Homo sapiens: one gene and its partner. The protein of the gene in region 2 interacts with the protein of the main gene of each other region in a biochemical or structural test. Each region holds a gene or a part of one and is shown on either strand. Other genes may lie near its edges.

Region 1 (15,893 bases), on a different chromosome or scaffold from region 2:
TGGTATGTCAAAATACCAAGAATGAGAACTGCTGATACAAAATACAGTGGAACACAAAGAAAATGTCCCTTTGTATCTGGGAAAGAAGGCAGGGGTCAGGAAAAGCTTTAAAGAGAAAGTGATGCTTCAGCTGTCTTTAAACAGTAACACAGTTGAGTCTTTTCTGGAAGTTCTGCTTCTTACAGAAGGAAAAGTATGTTTTCAGAAAACTGAAAAACGTTCAGTATGGCAGGCATGTATAGTGACCAAGCCAACAGATAATAAATCTGGGGAACAAAGAAGCACCAAATAGACCATGGGGGGCCTTGTAAACCAGATCTGTAACTAGAGAGATCTGGAAGTGTGGGAAATGGACTCAATGAAGGAACAACCATGTGCTTAGAGAGAACCAGGGAAAGCTCCATGAAAGATGGAGCCCAGCCAAGAGTGGACATGCTAAGTTTGGAGCATCTATGATGATTCTGGGTAAATGCATCTAACAGACAGTTAAGAAACAAGTCTAGGCCGGGTGGAGTGGCTCACGTCTATAATCCCAGCACTTTGGGAGGCTGAGGCGGGTGGATCACTTGAGGTCAGGAGTTCGAGAGCAGCCTGGCCAGCATGGTGAAACCCCAAATCTACTGAAAATACAAAAAAATTAGCTGGGCATGGTGGCACAGCTACTCGGGAGGCTGAGGTGGGAGGATGGCTTGAACCCAGGAGGCAGAGGTTGCAGTGAGCCAAGATCATCCCACTACACTACAGCCTAGGTGACAGAGCAAGACTCTGTTCTGCCCGTCCCCAAAAACGAAAATGAAATAAGTCTGGAGCCCACAAGAGCAATCTTGGCTACAGACACAAATATATTAGGACACAGGTAGATTTCAAAGCCATGAAGGGAGATGAGGAGATCACACAGAAGAATCAACAGAGTGAGAAAAGAGTCAAGTTTTGAAGCCCAATCAACACCAAATTTAAGATCAAGAAACTATCAAGAAATACTAGCGATTAAAGGATCACTGGCCGGGCGTGGTTACTCACGCCTCTAATCCCAGCACTTTGGGAGGCCAAGGCGGGCGGATCACGAGGTCAGAAGATCGAGACCATCCTGGCTAACATGGTGAAACCCCACCTCTACTAAAAATACAAAAAATTAGCTGGCGGTGGTGGCGGGCGAGTGTAGTCTCAGCTACTTGGGAGGCTGAGGCAGGAGAATCGCTTGAACCCGGGAGGCGGAGCTTGCAGTGAGCCAAGATTGCGCCACTGCACTCCAGCCTGGGCGACAGAGCAAAAAAAAAAAAAAAAAAAAAAAAACAGATTAAAGGATCAGGAGACAGGAGGATCAGAAACGCTGAAGTTTTAAGAAGTGGGTGGCCAACAGTGTCGGCTGATACAAGGAATACAAGGCTTAAAAAAGTAAGTCCACTGAGGCTGGGCTCAGTGGCTCACACTTGTAATCCCAGCACTTTGGGAGGCCAAGGCGGGCAGGTCACCTGAGGTCAGGAGTTCAAGACCAGCCTGGCCAACATGGTGAAACCCCGTTTCTACTAAAAATAAAAAAAATTAACCAGGCATGGTGGCGGGTGCCTGTAATCTCAGCTATTTGGGAGGCTGAGGCAGGAGAATTGCTTGAACCCAGGAGGCAAAGGTTGCAGTGAGCCCAGATCACACCACTGCACTCCAGCCTGCGTGGTAAGAAGGAGACTTTGTCTTAAAAAAAAAGTCCACTGAAATCAGCATGTAAAAAAAAAACATGGGTAACCTGTCAGGGTAATTACTACAGTGATAAGAACAGTGGACTTAAATGTGAGTGAGAAATGATACAGCGCAGTCAGCTGGAACAAAAACAACAGATGACAATTATTGCCCTTACTTTGAGTCAGAGACTGTTCTAAGTGCTTCTTGCATATTAGCTCATTGAATCCTTGTTAAGTATTTCCATGTTTAAAGCCAGGCACTTTAAACATGGCATGCACCTATAGTCCCAGCTTTTTAGAAGGCTGAAGAGAAAGGATCATTTGAGGCCAGGAGTTCAAGGCTGTAGTGCACTATGATCACACCTGTGAATAGCCAGAGCAACACAGCAAGACCACATCTCTTAAAAACAAAACACTCCATATTTTTTAAATCTCTATTGTTTTCTTGGTTTCACACAGTGGAAAATAGAGGCAGAGAGGTTAAAACAATTTGCTCAAGATCACACACTGGATAATAAAATTGGAATTTCATTCCAGGCAATCTAACTACCACTGCCATAGTAATAAACCATTCTCTTCAAAACTGGGCAGTAAAGGAAGAATGGTGAAACAAAATGCATTCAGCTTTTACTACATGATAGGTGTATCTCGAACCTGGAAATGCTGAATCAGTGGTTTGTTTTTTTTTTTTTTTTGCTTTGTTTTAGCTTTAAAGAGACAAGAGAGTTGCATGCAGCATGGAGGAAAGAGGTAGTAATCTAATAGAAAGGAAGCATTAGAGCAGGGTTTCCCAGCCTCAACACTGTTGTCATTTGGGGCTGGATCACTCTTGGTTCTGGGAGGCTGTCCTGTGCACTGTGAGATGTTTAGCAGCATCTCTGTCATTCACCCACTAGATGCCAGTAGCACCCTTTCCTCCCAGTTGTGACAAAAATATCTGCAGCCATCACCAAATGTCTTCTAGGGGGTAAAACTGTCCCTGGTTGAGAACCACCAGATTAAAATAAGGGAGGACCATGGAGAGAGCAAGTTCTGGAGGACAGAATGGGACCCAAAGAGCAAACTATGTCTGTATACAGTGGCAATAATTTTGCTAATGATCAAACACAAAATTAATTACCTTTATGTCTGGATCTAACAGCTGGTTCTTCAACAACTCAAAGTCATTTGTTTCACCCTTAACAAGAAGGGGAAAGAATTAAGTTATGCTTTTGTTTCCTGTTTAGTATCAACAGCAAGACTTTTAACCGTACTTTAACATCAGATGAAATTATAAAAGGAACACTAACTTTCACATGTCAATTGCGGATTATAAAATCATGACTACAAAAATTTAAACACTCATGTTAGTGCAGCCAGAGGGCTTGGAAAAAGGAAAATGATAAACTACATTTAGCTATACTTCTGTATTGACATTTGAATATAATAGTTGATACTCCTGCGAATTCTCAAAAAGCATGAGGGAAAAAAACAGCCAGCTATAATGATCTAATTCAGGAGGATCTAAAAAAGTATTCACTCAAATATGGATACAAATGGATATTACATATAAACATATGGTTACTTAACATTTTCCCTCTACTGCTGAGATACAGTAGAAATGCTTCTAAACTACCACAAAAACAAAAATCCCTACTCAGAGAACTGGTTTACTGTCCCAAAGTAATGCTTAGGTAAGTTCCTCAAAAAATAAAATGCTGTAGGCCAGGCATGGTGGCTCACGTCTGTAATCCCAGCACTTTGGGAGGCCAAGGCGGGTGGATCACAAGGTCAGGAGTTCGAGACCAGCCTGGCCAACATGGTGAAACCCTGCCTCTACTAAAAAAATAAAAAAATTAGCCAGGTGTGGTGGTGTGTGCCTGTAACCCCACCTATTCGGAAGACTGAGGCAGGAGAATTGCTTGAACCTGGGAGGTGGAGGATGCAGTGAGCCGAGGTCACGCCACTGCACTCCAGCCTGGGTGACAGAGGAAGACTCCAGCACAAATAAATAAATAAATAAAATGGTGTAATTGTTTTTAATTCTGGCACTTGCTAAAGTTAAAAGATGCTTCGTAAATAAAGCATTTGAAGAGGTGAAACCTCAGTAAAGACATTATTACTCTCTCATTATTACCTGTGAAATGGGCCAAGGTGGGGGAAAAAAAGGACACTATTACTCTAATTTTGCACTGACGGCATCATGCTATTATTAAATATTTGATTTCAACTGGTATCTTAATTAATCTTGCTATTTCTATTGGTCTTTAGTATAACAGCAATAGTTGTATTCTGACCTAACCAAAAGCAAACCTCACACATTATCTCCCCTTACCTTTTTGTACTTCAGCAAGACTTCTGTCACAGTTCCACCAAACCGAACAGTTTTTCTTGGGGGAGAATTGAAAAAGTCATTCTCTAATGCACGCATATTTGAAATCCTGTGGAACCAAGATTAACAAGCTATTAAGTTCATGAAAATAATAAAAATTATAATAGCCAACATTTATTGAACCAACATAATTCAGTGGAACTATTGTTAAGGCCTCTTTACTGGTCTCCCTGCTTCCACTCTTAACCAACAATCCTTCCTTTGCTCAGCAACCAATAACTGTCTTCCCACTGCACTTACAGTAAAAATCCAAATCTCTCAGTGTGGTCTTTAAGATCCTACATTAATCTGGCCCCTGCCTACCTCTCTCACCTCATCTCCAACAACTTGTTTTACTACAGCCATAACGTCTTTTCTGCTCTTCAAACAAGCCAAGCTGTTTTTCATTTCACTTACTGTTCACTCTATTGGAAATACTCTTTTCCCAAATCTCTACGTGGCTGGATTTTTTTTTTTGAGATGGAGTCTTGCTCTGCTGCCCAGGCTGGAGTGCAGTGGTGTGATCTTGGCTTAACTGCAACCTCCATCTCCCGGGTTCAAGCAATTATCCTGCCTCAGCCTCCTGAGTAGCTGGGATTACAGGCACCTGCCACCATGCCCGGCTGATTTTTGTATTTTCAGTAGAGACGAGGTTTCGCACGTTGGCCAGGCTGGTCTCCAACTCCTGACTTCAGATGATCCGCCCGCCTCGGCCTCCCAAAGTGCTGGGATTACAGGCGTGAGCAACCGCGCCCGGCCTAGATTTTTGTCTTCATTCAAGTGGAAGCTCAAATGACAGATGTCTTCCCAATGAGAAATCTCAAAAGCTCCTTCTCTCCCTTCTCCCTCCCCCATTACCTTGTTGTATAACTGAAATCATCGTGTTCGTTTATTTATTGGCCTATGTACTGCCTTTCCCCCCTATGCTGTAAGCTCTGTAGAAAGCAGGGACATTAGTGTCTTTGGATAAACCACTGTCCCCAGTGTTTAACACAGTAAGCAGGAGCTCGATAATTATTATGAATCATATTACGCTAATTGTTTTACAAGGTTTGCTTCACTTACACGTAGTAAATTAATGAAAAAACATAGCATCCTAATGACTCTGAAAGTTAAACGCCAAGAGTGCTACGGGGGTTAGGGATTTTAAAAGTGGAGCAAAATAAAGACTGCGAAACAAATACGTGTGTCGAAACAAATTCCAAACAAAAAAGATGTAATATTCAATTTGCCATGAGTGACGACGTTCGGCTGATAACCCACATAGCCCAGGGAAATCCCTTCCAAATTTGGACGAAGAAGAGGGAAGGAAGAGGGGTCAAGGCGCAGAAGGCAGTACCCAGGCCTGGGAAATCACGAAGAGACACAGTCGGGAAAGGGGGCCTCCAGAACAGAGAACATAGTCACTTTTCCAGGCCCCACCCATGTCTATTACCCAGTTAGGAGGAATGAGCTCATTTCTGTGAACGTGAGATGACCCTCCACCCCGTGCTCCTATCACACGCCATGAGCTTTGTCCCACATCCTTTCAATCCGCTCCTCTAAGCGCCGTCCTGAGCTTTCGTCCCAGATACGCAGAAGGAAGCGGCCTGAATCTTACCCAGTCCTCGACGCGCCCAGCTTCTTAACTGCAGAGGACGAAGCGGCCGCATCTCCCGGCAAACGCGTGTGAAGCAGCGGTGCCGCCATTGGGCCGAACTAACGCGACCGCTGCGCCTCAGGCCGGATGCCCAGCTCCTTCCAGCCACAGCCTCTGTCCCGGAAGTTGCGCGTGCCAGCGCAACCTTCAGCCAATCAGCGGCCCCGCGTGGGGAGGGCGTATGCTCTCGGCGGGCTAGAGCGCCGCTGAAACCCGCTCCTCGTTCTACTTGGAGGACTTGTTCCAGCCAGCGCTAGTGCGTGAGTATAAGGAGAGACGGGAAGGACCGGCTCCATCCAGCCCTGAGGATCCCGAAGAAAGGGTGGAAACACCCTGGATGTGCTAAGCTGTGGCCGGGTACACTCAAGTGTTAATTTTTTGGAGTCAAAGCCTCCCTCAGTCAAATCGAAGAAACTGAAGCACTTGTGACTGACCCAGATCTTCACGGAGGAAAGGGGATTCGAACCCGGCTGACCCAGGAGCCTGGGCTCTATACTCAGTGCAGCAGTCTCACAGACACCCAAGATAACGTTATCCTCACGGAAACGAGCTCGACGAAGTGACCTACCTCAGAGCCTCAAGGCTATGGTGATGCTGGCATGAGAAACAACAGGAGAGTTACGAAGAGGTGTTACCCCCTTGACTTTATTTATTTATTTATTTATTTTCTTTTGAGGCCGAGTCTTGCCCTTTTGCCCAGGTGGAGTGCAGTGGTGTGATCTCAGCTCACTGCAACCTCCGCCTCCCCAGTTCCAGCAATTCTCGTGCCTCAGCCTCCCAAGTAGCTGGGATTACAGGCGCATGCCACCACACCCGGCTAATTTTCGTATTTTTAGTGGAGACGGGGTTGCACTGTGTTGGCCAGGCTGGTCTCGAACTCATGACCTCAGGTCATCCGCCCGCCTCGGCCTCCCAAAGTGCTGGGATTACAAGCATGAGCCACCACGCCCGGCCAAACTTAAATTTTTAAAAGAGGAACAGGAGTCAGCCAGACCAACAAAAGAGCCACTGGCGTTCCAAGCATAGGAAACGGAGGAAACAGAGGCCAAAACCTCGGGACTGTGGAGGATGTAGAGGGAGAGCAGGGGCTGCCCCTACTCTCAGGGAGGGGAAAAGGTTGCAACTTTGGAAACTGTACAGGCCTATCAAAAATACAAAAATATCCAGCCTGGGTGACACGGTGAAACTCCATCTCTACAAAAAATTTAAAAAATAAAAATAATAAAAATTATCTGGGTGTGGTGGCACACACCTGTAGTCCCAGCTACTCGGGAGGCTGAGGATTGCTTGAGCCTGGGAGATAGCACCACTGCACTCCTGCTTGGGCAACAGAGTGAGACCCTGTCTCGAAATAAATAAATAAGTTTTTAAAAATGCATATGTATGGGCCCGGCGCAGTGGCTCACGCCTGTTATCCCAACACTTTGGGAGGCCGAGGCAAGTGGATCACCTGAGGCCAGAAGTTTGAGACCAGCCTGGCCAACATGACAAAACCCTGTCTCTACTAAAAATACAAAATTAGCCAGGCATGGTGGCAGTGCCTGTAATCCCAGCTACTTGGGAGGCCGAGGCAGGAGAATAGTTTGAACCCAGGAGGCAGAGGTTGCAGTGAGCCAAGATCGTGCCATTGCACTCCAGCCTGGGTGACGAGTGAAACTGTGTCTCAAAAAAAAAAAAGGTGTGTGTGTGTGTGTGTGTGTGTGTGTGTGTTTATATGTATCTCTCTCCAGGAGTTCAAGACCAGCCTGGGCAACATATGGTGGTGCATACCTGTAGTCCCAGCTACTTGAAAACTGAGGACGGAGGATCACTTGAGCCCTGGAGGTCAAGGCTGCAGTGAGCTGTGATTGTACCCCTGCACTCCAGCCTGGACAACACAGCAAGACCCTATTTCACAACATAAAATACAGCAATTTGGTTTTTTTGTTTTTTGTTTTTTTTTTGAGACAGAGTCTCGCTCTGTCACCCAGGCTGGAGTACAGTGTCATGATCTTGGCTCACTGCATCCTCTGCTTCCCAGGTTCAAGCGATTCTTGTGCCTCAGCCTCCCCAGTAGCTAGGATTACAGGCATGCGCCACCATGCCCAGCTAATTTTTGTATTTTTAGTAGAGACAGGGTTTCACCATGTTGGCCAGGCTGGTCTCAAACTCTTGACCTCAAGTGATCCGCCCGCCTTGGCATCCCAAAGTGCTGGGATTACAGGCATGAGCCACCACGCCCCGCCAGCAGTTTGTTAAACATAAACCATAGCTCTGTTTTGCAACAGTGTAAAATCAGTAACTGTCTTTCCTGAGTCTCTATTTGGTCCTTACTGAGTTCCTTGGGAATGTTGGACAGGAATCATCTGTGTCTCAAGGACAGAGGAAATAATTGCACCGTAGCTCACAAAGATACTTCAAGATAACTGTTTAAATGAGAATCTCTTCTTCACTTCCAAGGGAAAGCAAAGCAAAAACAAAAAGCAACAATAGCAAAACAGCAATCTGACAATTATCTGTTTTGTTTTGTTTTGGTTTGAGACAGGATCTCATTGTCTAGCCCAAGTTAGAGCGCAATGGCGCGATCATGGCTCGTTGCAGCCTCGGGCTCCTACAGCTTATGCAATCCTCTCACCTCAGCCGCCCGAACCCACACCACCAAGCCCAGCTAATTTTTTGTATTTTTGGTAAATACGAGGTCTCACTTTGTTGCCCAGGCTGGTCTTGAACCCCCGGCCCAAGTGATCCTCCCACCTTGGCCTCCCAAAGTGTGTCTCCCCACCTACACTCCCATTCTTTCCCTTAAAAAAAGTCTGAGTCTGGGTGCAGTGACTCACACCTGTAATGCCAGAGCTTTGGGAGGCTGAGGCAGGAGGATAACTTGAAGCCAGGAGTTTGAGACCAGCCCAGGCAACACAGCCAGACTCCGTCTCTACAAATAACACTTTTAAAAAACTTACCCAGGCATGGTGGCACGTGCCTGTAGTTCCAATTATTTGGGAGACAGAGGTGGGAGAATCACTTGAACCCAGGAGTTGGAAGCTGCAGTGAGCTATGACTACACCACGACACTCTCTGGCCTGGGTGACAAAGCAAAATCTCATCTCTTAAAAAAAAAAAGGGAAAAAAAGCTTGATATGTACAAAATAATATGTTAATGTAAGTTATAAGAACATAATGGGCCAGACACAGCGGCTCCTGCCTGTAATCCCAGCACTTTGGGAGGCCGAGGCAGGCGGATCACGAGGTCAGGAGATCGAGACCATCCTGGCTAATGCGGTGAAACCCCGTCTCTACTAAAAATACAAAAAAAAAAAAAAAAAAAAAAAATGTGCCGGGCGTGGTGGCAGGCACTTGTAATCCCAGCTACTTGGGAAGCTGAGGCAGGAGAATGGCATGAACCCGAGAGGTGGAGCTTGCAGTGAGCCGAGATCGCGCCACTGCACCCCAGCCTGGGTGACAGAGTGAGACTCCGTCTCCAAAAAAAAAAAAAAGAACATAATGAACACCTGTGAACATATCGCCCAATTTAAGAAGCCGAACATTAACTAGGACAATTGACACTTACTCTGTGCTGCTCTCGGATCCCACCTTCTACCTGCTTTCCTCCCAAAAATAGTCACCATCATGATTTTTAAAAGTCATTTTAGTTTTCTTTGAATAATTATCATATTTATACTCCTAAACAATGCACTATATTTACTTTTATTTGTCTTTGCATTTTATAAAGTTATCTCCATGCTGTATTATACTGCTGTTTGTTTTCAACATTATGCTTTTTTTTTTTTTTTTTTTTTGAGACGGAGTCTCCCTCTGTTGCCCAGGCTGGAGTGCAGTGGCATGATCTCCCGCCGTCCTCCCACCTCGGCCTCCCAAAATGCTGAGATTATAGGCATGAGCCACCGCGACCAGCCTGAATATTCTTGTATCATGTCCTGATGTATGTGTACAAGTGTTTTTCTAGGGTGGAACTGTTGGGTTGGAGGGGGCACCAAAAGCTTTTAGGAAAGGAGAAAGGAACAAATTGGATATCTATGATTTTTTTTTTTTTTTTTTGAGACAGAGTCTCACTCTGTTGCCCAGGCTGGGGTACAGTGGCACAAGCTCAGCTCACTGCAACCTCTGCCTCCCGGGTTCAAGCGATTCTCCTGCCTCAGCCTCCTGAGTAGCTGGGACTACATGTGCCCGCCACCACACCTGGCTAATTTTTGTATTTTTAGTAGAGATGGGGTTTCTCCATGTTGCCCAGGCTGGTCTCAAATGCCTGACCTCAGGTGATCTGCCTACCTTGACCTCCTAAAATGCTGGGATTACAGGTGTGAGCCATCGTGTCTGGCTACTATTAGTTTTTCTATTTAGAAATTGTTCATCTGGATCCTCCCTACCTTTCAGCCATTTGCAATACATTTGTTGAGCATAAAGAGTGACCTTCTTGGCCGGGCATGGTGGCTCACGCCTGTAATCCCAGCACTTTTGGAGGCCAAGGTGGGTGGATCACCTGAGGTCGGGAGTTCGAGACCAGCCTGACCAACATGGAAAAACCCTGTCTCTACTAAAAATACAAAATTAGCCTGGCATGGTGGCACATGCCTGTAATCCCAGCTACTTGGGAGGCTGAGGCAGGAGAATCACTTGAACCTGGGAGGCAGAGGTTGCAGTGAGCCGAGATCACTGCCATTGCACTCCAGCCTAGGCATCAAAACTCCCTCTCAAAAAAAAAGAGCAACTTTCTTGTCCACAGCAAAGAATCACTGGAAGCCATTTGATGCAATATGACCTCATCTCTCTAGCCAGTGTCGATTGGGTTACAGGAGGGCACCAAGAAGCTTTTTGAAGGCTGTGCCAATGTACACTTCCAGCAATATCTTCTTAAGCTTGAGTGCAGCTCCTTATTTTCCCAAAGCACAGCTAAGACTAAGGCTGCCAAGTTTTTAAAAAGATTTAAAGGAAACTCTGAGCATTATACAAGAAAAATACTGGCCGGGCCCTGTGGCTCATGCCTGTAATCCCTGTACTTTGGGAGGCTGAGGCAGGTGGCTCACTTGAGATCAGGAGTTCAAGACCAGCTGGGCCAACATGGTGAAACCCCATCTCTACTAAAAATACGAATTAGCAGGTGTGGTGGCAGGTGCCTGTAATCCCAGCTACTTGAGAGGCTGAGGCTGGAGAATTGCTTGAACCCAGGAGGCAGAGGTTGCAGTGAGCCAAGATCGCAACACTGCACTCCAGCCTGGGCAACAGAGCAAGACTTGGTCTCAAAAAAAAAAAAAAAAAAAAAAAAAGGAGAAAAAGAAAACCTTAAAACTAAATGCATAATTTCTGTTGTAATTCTTTGACCATGTCCGTTCTTTGTGGAGCCTCTATTCAGTCAAATTGTCCTGTGGGCCAACTCATCTTGGCAGGATAAAAGCCTCCTTATCCAGTCTTGCCTTCCCCAGAGAAAATAAAGGGGGTGGGGGAGGGATAAAGAAAATTAAGACCCTCCCCCTCCAAAAAGAGAAACAACAAAAAGCATGCAAGGATTAACATGCTATCTGCAAAGTCACCACCCTGCCCACAGTGTGGCCTTTCACTTCACTGAGTAATATATTGTTTGTAATACAACAATGTAATCAGCTTCTTCATTCCAGAACAAAATTTTGCTTTACTATCATCATATACCCAGAAGACCCATTAAACTGTTATTTCAAAACAGCAGCCTTTCCTTAGAGATAAATTTTACAGCTACCCCTAGAGTAGTTCTGTTGGCCAAAGCCTCTTAGCTTGCTAGTGAAAGAAACAAAGTCAAGCCAGCTTAAGCAGAAAAGGAGAATTTGTTCTGAGGATACAAATATATAGTAAGGTACCAAAAAAGAATTTATCATTGGCCAATTTGGATAAGGTGCCCTCCTGTAACCCTCCTGTAATCTAATCAACACTGTTAGAGAGATGAGGTGACAGTATACCAAATGGCTTTTGATGAATCTTTGCTGTGAACTAGAAGGGATTAAGTTATGCTCAACTAATGGTTTGCAAATGGCTGAATGGTAGGGCGGATCCACACGAAAAATTTCTAAATAACAAAACCAATAGCATGTATCTCATTTGTCCTTTTTCCTTTCCAAAGAGTCAACAATTATTGTATGAGTCAATTATCTTTATAAAAACTACATTCATTAACACAAATGCAAGATCTCAACTATATATCTTTAGTTATATACATGTATACACATATATGTGTATGTATACATACATTATCCTCAAAGACAACTAATTTAGAGCGTTCCTCATCCCAGTATCTCAGAGAAATACAAAGCAGTTTCTTAGATTTGGCATCATTGAGATTTTGGGCCAACCAGATACTTCTCTGTTGGGTGGGGAGGAGGCTGTTCTGTGAACTGTGGGATGTTCAGCAGCATCCCTGGCCTCTACCCAGTAGATGACAGTAGCACTCCTCTCCTCCCCACAGTAACATTCAAAAATATCTCCAGATGTTGCCAAATGTCCCTGGGGTACAAAACTCTTCCAATTAAGAACCACTGGTATAAACAAGTCAGCTGGGAGTGGTGGCACACACCTGTGGTCCCAGCTATATGGGAGGGTGAGGCAGGAGAATTGCTTGAGCCAGGAGCTTGAGACCAGCCTAGCCAGAATCTCTGCCTAGCCTAGGCAGATCTCTACAGAAAAATACAAAAATCAGCCATAGTGTTGGTGTGCACCTGTAGTCCCGGCTACTCAGGAGGCTGAGACGTGAGGATCAATTGAGCCCAGGAGGTCGAGACTGCAGTGAGCTATGATCTCCCCACTGCATCCTGCAACAGGGACGCTATCTCAAATAGTTAATTAATTAATGGAAGAAAGAAAGAAATCCTAGCTTTGTAATTTACTCTATTACTTTGGGCAATTGCCTTATGTTTCCAGAACTTCAATTTTCTTATGTACAAAATGGGAATAACTTTTTGAGCTATTTTAGAGCTATCGTAAGGATTAGAGCACATAACCACAAACCACAAAATATGTCACGGTGTACAGGACAGGGCAGGTTCTCCGTAAATGACAGTATTTGCCCATTTATTTTCCTGTAAATATGAAATATACTAGGATACTTGATGTGGTTACACTCAGGTGGAAACTGACCTATGAGGGAGATAGACAGATAGGCACGGTCTTTTTTGTTTGTTTGTTTGTTTTTTGAGACGGAGTCTCGCTCTTTCACCCAGGACGGACTGCAGTGGCACGATCTCGGCTCACTGCAAACTCTGCCTCCAAGATGCAAATGATTGTCGTGCCTCAGCCTCCCAAGTAGCTGGAATTACAGGTGTGCACTACCATGCCCAGCTGTTTTTTGTAGAGATGGGGTTAGTAGAGATTTGTTTAATAGAGACGGGGTTTCACCATGGTCTCTACTAAACCCTGTCTCTACTAAAAATACAAAAATTACCCAGGCGTGGTGGCACATGCCTGTAGTCCCAGGTACTCAAGAGGCTGAGGCAGGGGAATCACTTGAACCTGGGAGGTGGAGGTTGCAGTGACCCAAAATCATGCACTCTAGCCTGGGGTCTCGCTTTTGCCCAGGTTAGAGTGCAGTGGCACAATCATAGTGGCTCACTGCAGCCTCAAACTCCTGGGCTGAAGGGAATCCTCCCACCTCAGCCTCCCAAGTAGCTAGGACTATAGGCATGTGCCATCATGGCGAGTTAATTTTTTGTGTGTTTTTATTGTCTCGAGACAGAGTCTTGCTCTGTTGCTCAGGCTGGACTGCAATGGCGTGATCTTGGCTCACCGCAACCTCCACCTCCTGGGTTCAAGCGATTCTCCTGCCTCAGCCTCCCGAGTAGCTGGGATTACAGGTGCGTGCCACCATGCCTGGCTAATTTTGTATTTTTGGTAGAGACAGGGTTTCGCCATGTTGGTCAGGCTGCTCTTGAACGCCTGACCTTGTGATCCACCTGCCTCGGCCTCTCAAAGTGTTGGGATTACAGGCATGAGCCACTGAGCCTGGCCTGGTGAGCTAATTTTTAAATTTGTTATAGAGACAAGAGTCTCTCTTATGTTGCCCAGGCTGGTCTCGACCCCCTGGCCTCAAGTGATCCTCCCACCTCAGCCTCCCAAAGTGCTGGGATTACAGATGGGTGTCACCGCACCTGGCCTCTGAGGAGGATTTCATTATAAACCTGCCCTGAAGGGAGGAAATCCAATTTTACGAGAGGGTGTAGCCTGGTGAGGCCTGGATGACCTCCGGAGGCAGGGGCTTGTGCCTGGGCTGAGGCCTAAGGGTCAATGGGCAGACATGAAGTTGCCCCAGGCAGAGGGTACAGTGTGGGCAAAGTCAGGAAGTGGCAGGGCTTGGATCACTCCAGGAAGAGAGAGGAGTCATGTGTCACAGGAGCTCGAGACCCAGAGAGGGAGGCAGGCAGGCAGGCAGGGACCAAGCTTGGGCACAGCCAGGAAGGCAGGACAGGGCATGGTGGGGCCAAAGGAATCATTACCCAAGACGGGGATTTTCAGGGAAACAGCTTAGATAAGGCCAGGTGTACAGTAGCTCCCACCTGTAATCCCAGCATTTGGTGAGGCTGAGGTAGGAGGACTGCTTGAGCCTGGGAGTTCGAGACCAGCCTAGGCAACATAGTGAGACCCCATATCCACAAAAAATTTAAAAAAGGAGTTTGTGTTCCTGTAGTAGCAGACTTGGGAGGTTGAGGTGGCAGTATCACTTGAGCCCGGAAGTTCAAGGCTAAAGTGAGCTGATTGAGCCATTGCACTCCAGCCTGAGCAACAGAGAGATACGCTGTCTCAAAGGAAATACAAATTAAAAAACCAGCCGGGCATGCTGGCGTGTGCCTGTAGTCTCAGCTACTTGGGACGCTGAAGTGGGAGGATCGCTTGAGCCCAGGAGTTCAAGGCTGCCGTGAGCTATGATTGTGCCTCTGCAGTCCAGCCTGGGCGACAGAGAAAGACCCTGTCTCTTAAAAAAAAAAAAAAAAAAATCTTAGATAAGAGGATGCTGTGCCTCCCTGGGGGTCTTCAGTCACCCATGGTCCTGGCAAGAGAGGAGGGCCAGGAGAGAGCTTCACCCACCTGCTGTCCTGCCCATGTGACATCCGCAGGTGCTGCCATGGCCACGACTGTTGTTACACTCGAGCTGAGGAGGCCGGCTGCAGCCCCAAGACAGAGCGCTACTCCTGGCAGTGCGTCAATCAGAGCGTCCTGTGCGGTGAGTCCCCAGCAGCACCATGCCACCCACCCCGAGTATCCCCTGGGCACCCTGGCATAGCCAGATGACTTCCGTGCCCCTGTGGCAATAACCACTGCTTCCAAGTCTCTATAGACCACCCCTTGGGTATATCTAATGTAAGTGATATTTATTTTATTTATTTTTTGAGTCAGAGTCTCGCTCTGTCACCCAGGCTAGAGTGTGCTGATGTGATCTCGGCTCACTACAACCTCTGCCTCCTGGGTTCAAGCGATTCTCATGCCTCAGCCTCCCAAGTGGCTGGGACTACAGGCATGCACCATCACGCCCAGCTAATTTTTGTATTTTTTCAGTAGAGGTGGGGTTTCACCAAGTTGGCCGGGCTGGTCTCAAACTCCCCACCTCAAGTGCTCTGCCCGCCTCGGCCTCCCAAAGTGCTGGGATTACAGGCATGAGCCGTGGTGTCTGGCCCTAATGTGAGTGATCTTTAACACTGAGCACTTGAAAAAGAAAACCCTGAAGAAACCTAATTCTTTGATGTCTGGATGACAAGGAAGAAGATAGAAATGGCATCAGATAATAAACAGTGTAAATGTTTATCAGAAAGAGGCTGGTGGTCGGGACAAGTAGGAGGATTGCTTGAGTCCAGGAGTGCATCTCTACAAAAAAGTTAAAGGATTTTTTAACATTGGCCAGGCGTGGTGGCACACATCTGTGATCCCAGCTACTTGGGAGGCTGGGGCAGGAGGATTGCTTGAAGCCCAGGAGGTTGAGGCTGCAGTGAGCTGTGATCGAGCCACTGCACTCCAGCCTGGGTGACAGAGCAAACTCCAGTCTCAAAAAAAAAAACAAATAATAATATTTTACATAACCAACCACTTCTAAAGATTAAAAAAACCCCTACGATTAAAAACCTCAGGTCCCTCAGGCAATCATACCAGATATTGAAACAAAGCAATAACATAAGGACTGCAGTATTCATTTTATTTTTATATTATTTATTTATTCTTCGTTAGTTTCTTCAGATTATCATCCACTGAGGGTGGAAGGGGAGTGAGCAGACACACTTGGGAGGTG
Region 2 (15,158 bases):
GAGACAGAGTCTCGCTCTTTCGCCCAGGCTGGAGTGCAGTGGCATGATCTCTGCTCACTGCAGTCTCCACCTCCTGTGTTCAAGCGATTTTCCTGCCTCAGCTTCCCAAGTATCTGGATTACAGGTGTGCACCACCACGCCCTGCTAATTTTTTTTTTTTTTTTGCATTTTTAGTAGAGACGGGGTTTCACCATGTTGGCCAGGCTGGTTTTGAACTCCTGACCTCAAGGGATCCACCCATCTCGGCCTCCCAAAGTGCTTGGATAACAGGTGTAAGCGCCACCGCACCCAGCCTGAGAATTCTTTATATATTCTGGATATTCTTTTTTTTTCCCCCCTAAGGCGGAGTCTTGCTCTGTCACCTAGGCTGGAGTGCAGTGGCGTGATCTCAGCTCACTGCAACCTCTGCCTCCCAGGTTCAAGGGATTCTCCTGCCTCAGCCTCCCGAGTAGCTGGGATTACAGGCATGTGCCACCACACCTGGCTATTTTTGTTTTGGTGCTTTTTTTTTTTTTTTTTTTTTTTTTGAGACGGAGTTTTGCTCTTGTTGCCCAGGCTGGAGTGCAATGGTGCGATCTTGGCTCACCGCAACCTCTGCCTCCCAGGTTCAAGCGATTCACCTGCCTCAGCCTCCCGAGTAGCTGGGATTACAGGCATGTATCACTGTACCTGGCTAGTTTTGCATTTTTTGTACAGATGGGGTTTCTCCATGTTGGTCAGGCTGGTGTCAAACTCCCGACCTCAGGTAATCCGCCTGCATCGGCCTCCCAAAGTGCTGGGATTACAGGCATGAGCCACCGCACCCGGCCTGTTTTTGTATTTTTAGTAGAGATGGGGTTTCACCATGTTGGCCAAGCTGTTCTCGAACTCTTGATCTCATGATCCATCCACCTTGGCTTCCCAAAGTGCTGGGATTATAGGCGTGAGCCACCGTGCCTGGCATATTCTTTGTTTTTATATTACAAAATTAGCATTTTGTCCCACAGTCTAGAAGAAGATAATTTTTTGTGTTTTGAGACAGAGTTTTACTCTGTCACTCACACTGGAATGCAGTGGCACAACCTCACCTCACTGTAGCCTCCGCCTCCTGGGCTCAGGCAAAGCCCGTACCTCAGCCTCCTTAGTAGCGGAGACTGCAGGTGCCTGCCACCATTCCTGGCTAATTCGTTTGTGTTTTTTATAGCGATAGGGTTTTGCCATGTTTCCCAGGCTGGTCTTGAGCTCCTGGACCCAAGTGATCTGCCCACCTCAGTTTCCCAAAGTGCTGGGTTTACAGGGGTGAGCCTCTGATCTCTGCTGGAAGAGTTGAAGAACAGTCTTAGATCTTCTAAGACCTAGGTTTTAGGTCTGTGATTTCCAAACCTGATGCACACCAGATTCAACCAGAGAACTTTAAAAAATTGAGTAGGTAGGTCTGTTGTGTTCCATCTGTGTGACTGCTGGAGCCAGGCCAGGAGTGCTTCCAGGTTCTACTTCTGTCCCAAACAGATTCCTGTGGCATATCTTCTCTGTGTTCGTTGTGCTTGGCCAGACGACTCTGGTTGAGAGTGGTAGAGAGGTGACATAGTCTGGGAACTGATGGTCAGCTGTGGTAGGGAAGGCTCACACGTGCAGATACCTATTACCACATCACTGCCCATAACCCAGGGCGTACCACAGTCTAGCTGCATCTGAATAGATGGTACAAGAGCCCCTGTGGTGTTTCTGGTGGCCCGGTCAACTGCATTGTGAGGCCCAGAGACAGGAAGTGACTTTGGGTTGTGTTTGACTCCAGATTGGATGTTTTTACCACAGACTACCTCTAATCCTAGAGATTTTTACTTCACTGTGTAGTAAGTAACATTCAGTAATGAACAGAATTCACAGTTTAGTCAAGATGGCTTTGAAAAACAGTGTACGGAATGGTTTAGAATGAGAAGTGGTCATCTCACCCTCACCTTGCCCCATCCAGAGCCAGAGCATTGCCTCGTTTTCAGCATTGTGGACATGGATGATCACTTTGGGCTTATACCACTACTGCATGTTTCTTTTCTTCCTCAACAGTTTCAGTCATTCAGTCAGTACCGCTGTAAGACTGCCAAGAAGTCAGAGGAGGAGATTGACTTTCTTCGTTCCAATCCCAAAATCTGGAATGTTCATAGTGTCCTCAATGTCCTTCATTCCCTGGTAGACAAATCCAACATCAACCGACAGTTGGAGGTATACACAAGCGGAGGTGAGTGCAGCAGGCCGACAGCCGTGGCCTGCGAATTTCCAGCTGCTTGCCATCTGTTCCAAATGAATAGATCACTGCAAGGAGAGCAGATGAGTCACCATGTCTTAGGTGGTGGTCTGTTGACTCTTTGTAGGTGCTTGAGTACAAACAGTAGCAGAGTATTTGTGCTGGGGGCTCTGGGGCTTGGGAGTCCATTGGCCAACAGACTGAACCAGCACATTGAGATTTGCGTTTGTAAACACTTCTGTGTCTCCAGTGCTTTTGTTTAGATAAGCACTTCTCACACGTGTTGGTGTCAGAGCCACTTTACCCTGTTAAAATATTGAGAACCACAAAATGTATCTATTTTAAAAAATTTTTTTCTTTTTTTTTCAGTGAAGAGTGGCATTTTTGCAGATCTCTCTGTCTGGCTGAGATAGCTGGCTTCTCATTTCTGCTTCTGCATTCAATCTGTTGCAATGTGTTCTTTTGTTTGAAGCACATAAAGAAAATCTGGCCCAGGCACTGTGGCTCACACCTGTAATCCCAGCACTTTGGGAGGCTTAGGCAGAAGGATCGCTTGAGTCCAGGAGTTTGAGACCAGCCTGGGCAATATAGTGAGACTTTGTCTCAAAAAAAATGTTTAAATTGACTGAGCATGGTGGGTGGGGTGCCCCTGTAGTCCCAGCTACTCGGGAGGCTGAGGTGGGAGGATTGCTTGAGCCCAGGAAGCAAAGATTGCAGTGAACTGAGATCACACCACTGTACTCTAGCCTGGGCCACAGAGCGAGAACTTGTCTGAAAAAAAAAAAGAAGGAAAATCTGGCTTCACACGGTTATAGGAAGTTTTTTTGTTGTTTGTTTTTGAGACAGGGTGTCGCTGTGTCACCCAGTCTGGTCTTGGACTCCTGGGCTCAAGCAGTCCTGCCTTGGCCTCCCAAAAGTGCCAGGATTATTGGAGAGGATTTTCTTTGATACTACACCATGTAGTAGTATGTATGGGTTGAATATTCCTGACTTGAAAATTTGAAATCTGAAATGCTCCAAAATCTGACTTTTTGAGCACCAACATGACGCCGTAAGTAGAAAATTCTACACCCAACCTCATATGAGCAGTTGCAGTCAGAACTTCGTCTCATGCACAAAAGTATTTAAAAGATTATAATAAAGTTACTTTCAGGCTGTGTGTATAAGACATATATGAAAAATAAATGAATTTTATGTTTAGATTTGGATCCTATCCTTAAGATACTCATTAGGGCCGGGTGCCATGGCTCACGCCTATTATCCTGGCATTTTGGGAGGCTGAGGCGGGCAGATCACCTGAGGTCAGGAGTTCAAGACCATCCTGGCCAACATGGTGAAACCTCATCTCTACTAAAAATACAAAAAATTAGCCGGGCCTGGTGGTGGGCACCTGTAATCCCATCTACTTGGGAGGCTGAGGCAGGAGAATCATTTGAACCAGGGAGGCAGAGGTTGCAGTGAGCCGAGATCGCACCACTGCACTACAGTCTTAGTGACAGAGCGAGACTCTGTCTCGGGGAAAAAAAAAAAAAAAAAAAAGATATCTCATTAGGCATATGCAGATATTAAAAATTGCAAAATCCAAAACACTTCTGATCACAAGCATTTATAGAAGTATACTCACCCTGTACTTCTTTGAAGTAACCAGTGGTAGTTTCATACAGATTAGGTGCAGTGAGGAATCTGAAACTGTATTGGTGAATTTTTCTTTTGTTAACGTTATTCGTCACTTCTGTAATTTGAATGAGTTCCTTACATCCATGTGTGACTTTTTTTTTTTTCCTGAGACAGAATCTGCTCTGTTGCTCAGGCAGAGTGCAATGTCATGATCTCAGTTCACTGCATCCTCTGCCTCCGGGGTTCAAGCGATTCTCCTGTCTCAGCCTCCAGGGATATAGAAAGGAAGGATTACAGGCACACGCCACCACGCCGGGCTGATTTTTGTATTTTTAGTAGAACAGAGTTTGACCATGTTGGCCAGGCTGCTCTTGAACTCCCGAGCTCAAGTGATCTGCCTGCCTCGGCCTCCCAAAGTGCTGGGGTTACATGCATGAGCCACTGCGCCTGGCCATGTGTGATTTCTAAAAAAATATTGGTTCTCTGAGTTATAAAGATCTTCCAAATGTTGACACATTTTATTACATTTTTTTAAAAAGTCAGATTTGTTACTTTTGCCACTGACATCAGGTAAGCATTTATTTGTAAGCTATAGAGCTTGTAGTGGCAGATACAAGTTTTACAAAATTCCATTTTTGCTTAATAGCTTGAATTTTTATTTATTTTGAGATGGGGTCTCACTCTGTCACCCTGGCTGAAGTGCGGTGGCACAATCATGGCTCACTGCATCCTCTACCTGCTGGGCTCAAGTGATCCTCCTACCTCAGCCTCCCAAGTAGCTAGGAACGCAGGTTTGCACCACCATACCTGGCTGATTTTTTTTTCTTTTTTTTTTGGTAGAAACAAGGTCTCACTTTGTTGCCCAGGCCAATCTTGAACTCATGGGATTTCATGTGTGAGCCACTGTGCCCAACCTTTGAACTGTTTTATAGGTAGCAAACACTGTCAGTTATTTTCTTTGAGGTATGACAGGTTTACTTCATTTTTGTGAAAATGTCTGCCCTTTTTTCCTTCTTTTTTTATTTTTATTTTTTTTGAGACAGAGTCTTGCTCTGTAGCCCAGGCTTGAGTGCAGTGGCACAATCTCTGCTCACTGCAACCTCCGCCTCCCAAGTTCAAGCAATTCTCCTGCCTCAGCCTCCCCAATAGCTGGGACTGCAGGTGTGCACCACCACACCCATCTAATTTTTGTATTTTTAGTAGAGACGGGGCTTCACCATGTTGGGCAGGCTGGGCTCAAACTCCTGACCTCAAGTGATACGTCCGCCTCGGCCTCCCAAAATGCTAGGATTACAGGCATGAGCTGCGCTCAGTTGCGTATCAGTTTTTTTTGTTTTTTTTTTTTTGAGGTGGAGTCTCGCTCTGTTGCCCAGGCTGGAGTGCAGTGGCGCAATCTGGGCTCACTGCAAGCTCCGCCTCCCGGGTTCATGCCATTCTCCTGCCTCAGCCTCCCAAGTAGCTGGGCTACAGGCGCCCACCACCATGCCCGGCTAATTTTTTGTATTTTTAGTAGAGACGGGGTTTCACCTAGCCAGGATGGTCTCGATCTCCTGACCTCGTGATCTGCCCACCTCAGCCTCCCAAAGTGCTGGGATTACAGGCGTGAGCCACCGCTCCCGACCTATGTATCAGTTGTTTTTTTCAAGTAAAAATGAAAAAAGAATTTTCTTTCTTTTTTTTGTCTTTTTTTTAGAACAGGGTCTCTCTGTTACCCAGGCCAAAATGCAGTAGCACTTCCATAGATCTCAGTCTCAAAAAACAAACAAACAAACAAAAAACAACTGATACAACAATCTCTGGTTATTCAGATATGGTACCTGGGCTCAAGCACATCCTCCCATCTCGGCCTCTCAAGTTGCTGGGATTAGAGGTCTAAGCCACCAAGCCTGGCTAAGGACTAGTTCTTTTAGTGCAAATGCATGGCAAGAAGCAATGCAGTGACTACTGGTACAATTTTGTGTCGTTGCCTGATTTATGCTTAAGTTGACAGTAATTTTACCCAACATAGTGTTTGCATCATGCAAAATTCAACTCAGTGGGAAGGGCAAGTAACATCTTAGTGTTGTTATTAGGAAAATAGCTTTGACCTCATGTGCTTTCTGAAAGGAGGAGTCTTCGTGGTTGTATTTTACTGATGAGAGGGGCCTTTGCATGTGTTGGGACCAAAAAAAAAATAAGCAAAATGAACTGCCATCCTGTAAGCAAATATTGGTAAATCGAAGATTAGCATAAGATTGGTTTTGCTGTTTCTTGGTATTCCTTTGAAGTTATTCCCCAGTTGTTGAGGGAAGCTTTCAAGGCTGGCAGTAGGTGAGATGCCTACTGAGTAACATTCAGAGGTCAGGTGTGCCTGCCTTTACCTGCCTCCTATCAGTATTCACGGTGTCTGTCTCTTTCAGGTGACCCTGAGAGTGTGGCTGGGGAGTATGGGCGGCACTCCCTCTACAAAATGCTTGGTTACTTCAGCCTGGTCGGGCTTCTCCGCCTGCACTCCCTGTTAGGAGATTACTACCAGGCCATCAAGGTGCTGGAGAACATCGAACTGAACAAGAAGGTGATGCCTATTGCCTCTGGCCCCTCTTGCCAGAGCCAGAATATCTATTTCTAGAGAACCACTCTGATCTCTTAGGACAAATTTCCAGGAGAGGAAAGAGGACTGTTCCCTCAGGCCATTGAAAGTTGAGACTAAAACTGGGCAAACAGCTGTGGTAAAAAGCTAGACCTGGACGATTTTGGTAGTTAACAACAGTTTTTTATTTTGTTTTCAAAATGGAATGATGATGGCAGCTTGCTCTGTCACCAGGCTGGAGTGCAGTGGTGTGATCTCAGCTCATTGCAACCTCCGTCTCCTGGGTTCAAGCGATTCCCCTGCCTCAGCCTCCTGAGTAGCTGGGACTACAGGCATGCGCCACCATGCCCAGCTAATTTTTTTTTTTTTTTTTTTTTTGTATTTTAGTAGAGTTGGGGTTTCACCGTGTTGGCCAAGATGGTCTCGATCTCCTGACCTCGTGATCCGCCTACCTCGGCCTCCCAAAATGCTGGGATTACAGGCGTGAGCCACCATGCCTGGCCCATGGCAGCTCTTTGCTCTTCACATTTTGCTAAAGGATTGAGAAGGCCAGACGCAGTGGCTCACACCTGTAATCCCAGCAGTTTGGGAGGCTGAGGCAGGTGGATTACTTGAGGTCAGGAGTTCGAGACCAGCCTGGCCAACATGGTGAAACCCTGTCTCTGTTGAAAATACAAAAAAAAAAAAAACTAGCTGGGTATGGTGGTGGGCACTTGTAATCCCAGCTACTCAGGAGGCTGAGGTAGGAGAATCACTTGAACCTGGGAGGCAGAGGTTGCAGTGAGCCGAGATCACACCATTGCACTCCAGCCTGGGCAACAGAACAAGACTCTGTCCCAGAAAAAAAAAAAGAATTAAGTAAAGATGTAATTCTAAGATGGTATGTTCATTGATACATGGTTAGCTGTTGTGTTCTTCCTAACCACAGAAAAATATTACAGATAATTTTTATTTGGTGTTTGGCTCATGTGCATGTATGTGTTTCTGTCTTCCCTGTCCAAAAGGACTTAATTGAAAAAGCAAGGAAAAATAACAAAACTGAGATGTATAGCATTTTAGAGCTGAAGGAGATTTTAGGGATTACCTGATCCAGAACCTTCTTGTTTACAGCTAAAAAAATGGATTCCTCAAAACATACAACTTAATTGATGAATAGGAAGATCCGCTCTCAAACTCTGGGACTCCAGAGCTTCCTCTGGATAGTTGAGGGCCTCTGCAGGGAAAACTCTTGGTGTTTCTACCTCTGGTTCTATCTAGGATGAATTGGGACTCATGAATGTTTGTTCTACCTCCTTCTACAGAGTATGTATTCCCGTGTGCCAGAGTGCCAGGTCACCACATACTATTATGTTGGGTTTGCATATTTGATGATGCGTCGTTACCAGGATGCCATCCGGGTCTTCGCCAACATCCTCCTCTACATCCAGAGGACCAAGAGCATGTTCCAGAGGACCACGTACAAGTATGAGATGGTAAGGGGGACTCTGCCTGCCACCAGTGGCCTTTCTAATCAGGGGGATCCTTGGCACCTATGCCAACCATTCTTGGTAAACACCATCCAAAATATTGCACTTTTAAGCCAGGAGTTCAAGACTGTAGAGCGCTCTGTGATTGTGCCTACTAATAGATCACCCAGCTGGAGTGCAGTGACGCAGTCACAGCTCACGTCAGCCTCAACCTCCTGGGATCAGGCGATCATCCTACCTTAGTCTTCCGAATAGCTGGGCTTAAAGGCGCACACAACAACACCGGCTAATTTTTTTTTTTTTTTTTTTTTTTTTTTGAGACGAAGTCTCTGTCACCCAGGCTGGAGTACAGTGGTGCAATCTCAGCTCACTGCAACCTCCGCTTCCTGGGTTCAAGTGATTCTCCAGCCTTAGCCTCCTGAGTAGCTGGGACTACAGACGCGTGCCACCATGTCCAGCTAATTTTTGTATTTTTAGTAGAGATGGGGTTTCACTATTTGGCCAGGCTGGTCTCGAACTCCTGACCTCAGGCGATCCATCCACCTCAGCCTCCCAAAGTGCTGGGATTACAGGCGTGAGCCACCACGCCCAGCCAAAATGAACTTTTAATGGCTAGCATACTCTTAGGAGTTTCTGTTGTGATGCCTGTTACCTCAGATCATTAACATCTTGATGATAAGGACTTGATGATAATATCTTTTGTTTCAGTTATATCCTCCAGCAGTGCCTACATTTATTTATTCAGCATCAGTATGCTGAGTGTTCACTGGGTTCTAAATGTTTTGATATAAGGTGTGGATATTGGTGGGAAGGAGGATGGGTTCAAGAATTGGGAGGAGCTTCCTAGGCAGAGAATATCATGAGCAAAGTGGTTGAGACTTGAAAGTGTGGTGATGCAGCCGCACAATAAACTGTTCTGGCTGGAGGGCAAGTAGGTAGTAGGAATTGGGTTATTAGATTCTGAGAACCTTCATTAACCCAGGTAAAGTATAGTCCTGTGTCATTTGATGCTGCAGATACATTCTGAGAAATGCATCATTTGGTGATTTTGTTGTGTGAACATCATAGAATGTACTTACACAAACCTAGATGGGATAACCTACTACATACCCGGGCTACATGGTATAGCCTATGGCTCCTTGGCTACAAACGTCTAGAACATATTACTGTACTGAATACCATAGGCAGTTGTAACACAAAGGTATTTGTGTATCTAAGATACAGTAAAAATACAGGATTATAATCTTGCAGGATCACCATCCTATATGTGGCCCATGGCCCGTTGTTGACTGAAACGCTGTTGCACGGCACATTACTATTTAGTCTATATTTCTGTCGTCATCAAGGTTGCATCAAAGGTTTTGGGTAACTCGATCCTAACTGTGTAAAAGGATTGACCTGCTAGTGATGTGTGGGACAAACTGGAGAGACTAAGACAGAGGTGCCAGTAAGGAATCCAGAAGATGGCTAAGGAGGATCTGGAGCTAGGATGGAAGTTAGGTAGATCTAGAGGGAGGATTGGAAGAGATGTTGGGGAAGTTCAATGGCTGGTATGAAACAACTGGGTAAGTCAAAGATCTGTGCAGAGAATGGTGAGGCCAGTTGGCAGTGGGGACCTCAGGAAGTCCGTCTCATTTGACCCAGTACCACTCTCCACCCCATCCCCAGATTAACAAGCAGAATGAGCAGATGCATGCGCTGCTGGCCATTGCCCTCACGATGTACCCCATGCGTATTGATGAGAGCATTCACCTCCAGCTGCGGGAGAAATATGGGGACAAGATGTTGCGCATGCAGAAAGGTGACCCACAAGTCTATGAAGAACTTTTCAGTTACTCCTGCCCCAAGTTCCTGTCGCCTGTAGTGCCCAACTATGATAATGTGCACCCCAACTACCACAAAGAGCCCTTCCTGCAGCAGCTGAAGGTGTTTTCTGATGAAGTACAGCAGCAGGCCCAGCTTTCAACCATCCGCAGCTTCCTGAAGCTCTACACCACCATGCCTGTGGCCAAGCTGGCTGGCTTCCTGGACCTCACAGAGCAGGAGTTCCGGATCCAGCTTCTTGTCTTCAAACACAAGATGAAGAACCTCGTGTGGACCAGCGGTATCTCAGCCCTGGATGGTGAATTTCAGTCAGCCTCAGAGGTTGACTTCTACATTGATAAGGTATGCCTGTCCCCTGGGCTTGGGGTCTTGTATTAAGTGTTCAGTATCTTTCATTCACTATTGTGGGCACATGAAGTATATCGGGGAACAAAAAGATTCCTGGCCTTGTGGTGCTGCCACAAGGTGCCAGGTGTGGTGGCTCATGCCAGTAATACTAGTACTTTAGGGGAGGCTGGGGTGGGAGGATCACTCTAGCCCAGGAGTTCAAGACCAGCCTGGGCAACGTAGTGAGACCTTTTCTCTATTAAAAAAAAAAAAAAAAAAACACAAGAGATAAACAATAGATGGTTTTGTTTTGGTTTTTTTTTTGAGATGGAATTTCGCTCTCGTTGCCCAGGCTAGAATGTGATGGCACGATCTCGGCTCACCGCAACCTCCGCCTCCCAGGTTCAAGCCATTCTCCTGCCTCAGCCTCCTGAGTAGCTGGGATTACCGGCATGTGTTACCATGCCCAGCTAATTTTGTATTTTTCGTAGAAATGGGGTTTCTCCATGTTGGTCAGTCTGGTGTCAAACTCCCAACCTCAGGTGATCAGCCAGCCTTGGCCTCCCAAAGTGCTGGGATTACCAACAATAGATGTTATAATTAAACAATAGATGTTATAATTAAACAAACTATGTAGTAAGAAGTTGCCAAGCACTGCAGAGTAAAGGAAGGCAGAGGTGGTGGGAAGCACAGGTTGCAATGTTAAATACGGTGTTCAGACAGGCTTTGTTGAGAAAGTGAAGTTTAAGCTAAGCTAAGACTTGAAGGAGGTGAGGGAGTAGTGTTTTGGTTTTTTTTTTTTTTTTTTTGACAGTCTTGGTCTGTCGCCCAGGCTAGAGTGCAGTGGTGCAATCTCGGCTCCCTGCAACCTCCGCCTCCCAGGTTCAAGCAATTCTCCTGCCTCAGCATCCTGAGTAGCTGGAATTATAAGAGGCCGCCACCACACCTGGCTAATTTTTGTATTTTTAGTAGAGACAGGGTTTTGCCATGTTGGCCAGGCTAGTCTCAAACTCCTGACCTGAAGCGATCCATCTGGTGGAGAGTTCTTAATAGCTCACCAAAGGCTGGACACGGTGGCTCATGCCTGTAATCCCAGCACTTTGGGAGGCCGAGATGGACAGATCATGGGGTCAAGAGATCAAGACCATCCTAGCCAACATGGTGAAACCCCATCTCTACTAAAAATAAATTAGCTGGGCATGGTGGCGCATACCTGTAGTCCCAGCTACCCGGGAGGCTGAGGCAGGAGAATCACTTGAACCCAGGAGGCGGAGGTTGCAGTGAGCTGAGATCGCTGCACTGCACTGTAGCCTGGCAACAGAGCGACACTCCGTCTCAAAAAAAAAAAAAATAGCTCACCAGATATCTGGAGGAAGAGCCTTCCAGGCAGAGGAACAGTTAGAGCAAAGGCCCCGAAGAGGAGTGAGGCCAATAAGTTTAAGGGACAGTTGTAGTATGCCCGAGTAGCCTGAGAAAGGAGGCTGTGAAGATGAGATTGGAGAAAGGGGGATGGTGCTTTGTATACTGTTGGAGTACTTTACAAGTGGGAAGCCATTGTCCTGCTGCCTTCTTTATTTTTTTATTTTTAGTTAGCAATAATCACACCTCACATAACCCTCATTGGCCATACTGCCACTGCACAAAGCTTTTTTTTTTTTTTTGAGATGGAGTGTCATTCTGTCGTCCAGGCTGGAGTGCAGTGGCACGATCTTGGCTCACTGCAACCTCTGCCTCCCGGGTTCATGCGATTCTCTTGCCTCAGCCTCCTGAGTAGCTGGGATTACAGGCTCACACCACCACACCCAGCTAATATTTTGTGTATTTTTAGTAGAGACAGGGTTTCACTATGTTGACCAGACTGGTCTCCAACTCCTGACCTTGTGATCCGCCCGCCTCGGCCTCCCAGAGTGCTAGGATTACAGGCGTGAGCCATCGCGCCCGGTATTATTTTATTTTTATTTTATTTTATTTTATTTTGAGATGTCTCGCTCTGTCGCCTAGGCTGGAGTGCAGTGGCGCGATCTCAGCTCACTGTAAGCTTCACCTCCCAGGTTCACGCCATTCTCCTGCCTCAGCCTCCCGAGTAGCTGGGACTACAGACACCCGCCACCACACCTGGCTAATTTTTTGTATTTTTTAGTAGAGACGGGGTTTCACTGTGTTAGCCAGGATGGTCTCAATCTCCTGACCTCGTGATCCACCCACCTCGGCCTACCAAAGTGCTGAGATTACAGGCGTGAGCCACTGCATCCGGCTCTCTTTTTTGAGACAAGGTCTCACTCTGGTTGCCCAGGCTGGAGTGCAGTGGTGTGATCTCAGCTCACTGCAGCCTCAACTTCCTGGGTTCAGGTGATTGTCCTACCTCATCCTCCCAAGTAGCTGAGATTACAGGCGCACGTCACCACGACTGGCTAATTTTTGGTATTTTTAGTAGAGATGGGGTTTGGCCATGTTGCCCAGCCTGGTCTCGAACTCTGATATGTGCCACTGTTCCCAGCCGATTTTAAGTTTTTACTTTATAGAAACAGGGTCTCACTTTGTTGCCCAGGCTAGTTTCAAGTGATCCTCCTACCTTGGCCTCCCAAAATGCTGGGATTACTGGTGTGAGCCACTGCGCCTGTCCTGTCCTGATGTCTAACATCTTGGATTAGTGCTGCCTGTTTGTGAACTTTATATAATGGAATTACACAGTATGTACTCTTTAAGTCTGGCTTCTTTTGCTCAACGTTATAATTGAGTGAGTCACCGTCCATTGTGTGTAGCAGTGATTCCTTCATGTTTATTGTTCTGTGATAGTCCAGCATCTGCTGTTGTTATTGTACTGCAGTTTATCCATTCTCCCATTGATTAACGTTTGGATGGTTTGTATATTACAAAAAATACAAGTAAGGTTTTTACAGAGTGGCTAGTAATACATTTATATATGCCTATGTATGCCTCAAGTTCTTTCCAGAAGGATACACAAGCAACATAGCAGTAGCTTCCTCTCAGGAGGGGAGGTGGGTTGAAGAACAGTGTTAGTTTTCACTGGCACTTTTAAGTTCAAGCTGGACATTTTAATGTCTGATGAGATTTTCATTTTTATTTATTTATTTAGAGACAGAGTCTCATTGTATCACTCAGGCTGTAGTGCAGTGATGTGATCTTGGCTCACTGCCACCTCCGCCTCCTGGGTTCAAGCAATCCTTCTGTCTCAGCCTCCTGATTAGCTGGGACTACAGGCGCTGATGAGCTGATGAGGTTTTTAAAAGAATTGTTTTCTTTTTTTTTAGACTGAGTCTTGCTCTTGTTGCACAGGCTGGAGTGCAATGGCACAATCTTGGCTCACCGGAACCTCTGCCTCCCGGGTTCAGGCGATTTTCCTGCCTCAGCCTCCCGAGTAGCTGGGATGTACAGGGATGCGCCACCATGCCCAGCTAATTTTGTATTTTTAGTAGAGACAGGGTTTCTCCGTCTTGGTCAGGCTGGTCTCGAACTCCCGCCCTCAGGTGATCTGCCCGCCTCGGCCTCCCAAAGTGCTGGGGTTACAGACATGAGCCACCACACACGGCCGTCAGCCCAGGTTTTCTAAGATCAGCAAATGTCCATAGGGCAGAGGGGGTCTTCTGTGCTTTTCTTAGAATGGTTTCTTTTTTCCCAAAATGTTCTGTTACTATCTTGTCAGCTCTTTGATGCTGTAAGTTTTTTTCTAATATCCTGCATTTTTAATTGTTTTTGAAAGCATTTTGGGCCAGGTACAGTGGCTTATAGCTATAATCCCAATACTCTGGAAGGACGAGGCAGGAGAATTGCTTGAGCCCAGGAGTTCAAGACCAACCTGGGCAACAAACCAAGACCCTGTCTCTACTTTTTAAAAAGAGAAAAAGCATGCTGGGCATGATGGCTCACGCCTGTAATCCCAGCACTTTGGGAGGCCAAGGCGGGTGGATCACCTGAGGTCAGGAGATCAAGACCATCCTGGCCAGTATGGTGAAACCCTGTCTCTACTAAAAATATAAAAATTAGCCAGGCATGGTGGCACATGCCTGTAATCCCAGTAACTTGGGAGGCTGAGACAGGAGACTCACTTGAGCCCAAGAGACAGAGGTTGCAGTGAGCTGAGATCAAGCCACCGCATTCCAGCCTTTGTGACAGAGATGAGACTGCATCTTGAAAAAAAGAGAAAAAGCATTTTGGTCTAAATGTATTGTTGGAAATAGCACTTTTTGAGCAGTTCTTAAAAATACATAATTTTAGGCTGAGTGCAGTGGCTCATACCTGTAATCCTATCACTTTGGGAGGCCAAGGTGGGTAGATCATCAGAGGTCAGGAGTTCAAGACCTGCCTGTGCAACATGGTGAAACCCCGTCTCTACTAAAAATATTTAAAAAATTAGCCGGGCATGGTGGTGCGTTCCTGTAATCCCAGCTACTCGGGAGGCTGAGGCACGAGAATCACCTGAACCTGGGAAGCAGAAGCTGCAGTGAGCCGAGATTGTGCCACTGCACTCCAGCCTGGGCAACAGAGTGAGAGACTGTCTCAAAAAAAGAAAAAAACATAATTTTTATACATAATTTGCATGATAAGCCGGGCGCGTTGGTTCACGCAAGTAATCCCAGCACTTTGGGAGGCCGAGCTAGGCGGAACACGAGGTCAGGAGATCAAGACCGTCCTGGCCAATATGGTGAACCCCATCTCTACTAAAAATACAAAAATTAGCTGGGCGTGGTGGCGGGTGCCTGTAGTCCCAGCTACTTGGGAGGCTGAGGCAGGAGACTTGCTTGAACCTAGGAGGCGGAGGTTGCAGTAAGCCAAGATTGCACCACTGCACTCCAGCCTGGGCAACAGAGCGAGACTCCACTTCAAAAAAATAAAAAAAGGCTGGGCATGGTGGCTCACGCCTGTAATCCCAACACTTTGAGAGGCGAAGGTGGGCGGATCACTTGAGGTCAGGAGATCAAGACCAGCCTGACCAACATGAAGAAACCCCATCTCTACTAAAAATACAAAATTAGCCAGACGTGGCAGCGCATGCCTGTAATCTCAGCTACTCCGGAGGCTGAGGCAGGAGAATTGCTTGAACCCGGGAGGTGGAGGTTGCAGTGAGCCAAGATCGTGCCATTGCACTCCAGCCTGGGCAACAAGAGTGAAACTC

The links.
Region 1: the proteins of EIF3L (region 2) and RRN3 form a complex in vitro, tested with the Homo sapiens proteins (one study listed by BioGRID).

The regions. Positions count from the first base shown.
Region 1 is NC_000016.10:15,088,519-15,104,411, forward strand, and holds the start of RRN3 (RNA polymerase I-specific transcription initiation factor RRN3), read right to left. Parts: upstream 5,755-15,893; 5' UTR 5,716-5,754; coding exon 5,627-5,715; intron 4,097-5,626; coding exon 3,991-4,096; intron 2,854-3,990; coding exon 2,797-2,853; intron 1-2,796. UniProt on the Homo sapiens protein: Required for efficient transcription initiation by RNA polymerase I (Pol I). Required for the formation of the competent pre-initiation complex (PIC).
Region 2 is NC_000022.11:37,868,133-37,883,290, forward strand, and holds part of EIF3L (eukaryotic translation initiation factor 3 subunit L), read left to right. Parts: intron 1-2,043; coding exon 2,044-2,215; intron 2,216-6,237; coding exon 6,238-6,392; intron 6,393-7,708; coding exon 7,709-7,879; intron 7,880-9,541; coding exon 9,542-10,039; intron 10,040-15,158. UniProt on the Homo sapiens protein: Component of the eukaryotic translation initiation factor 3 (eIF-3) complex, which is required for several steps in the initiation of protein synthesis.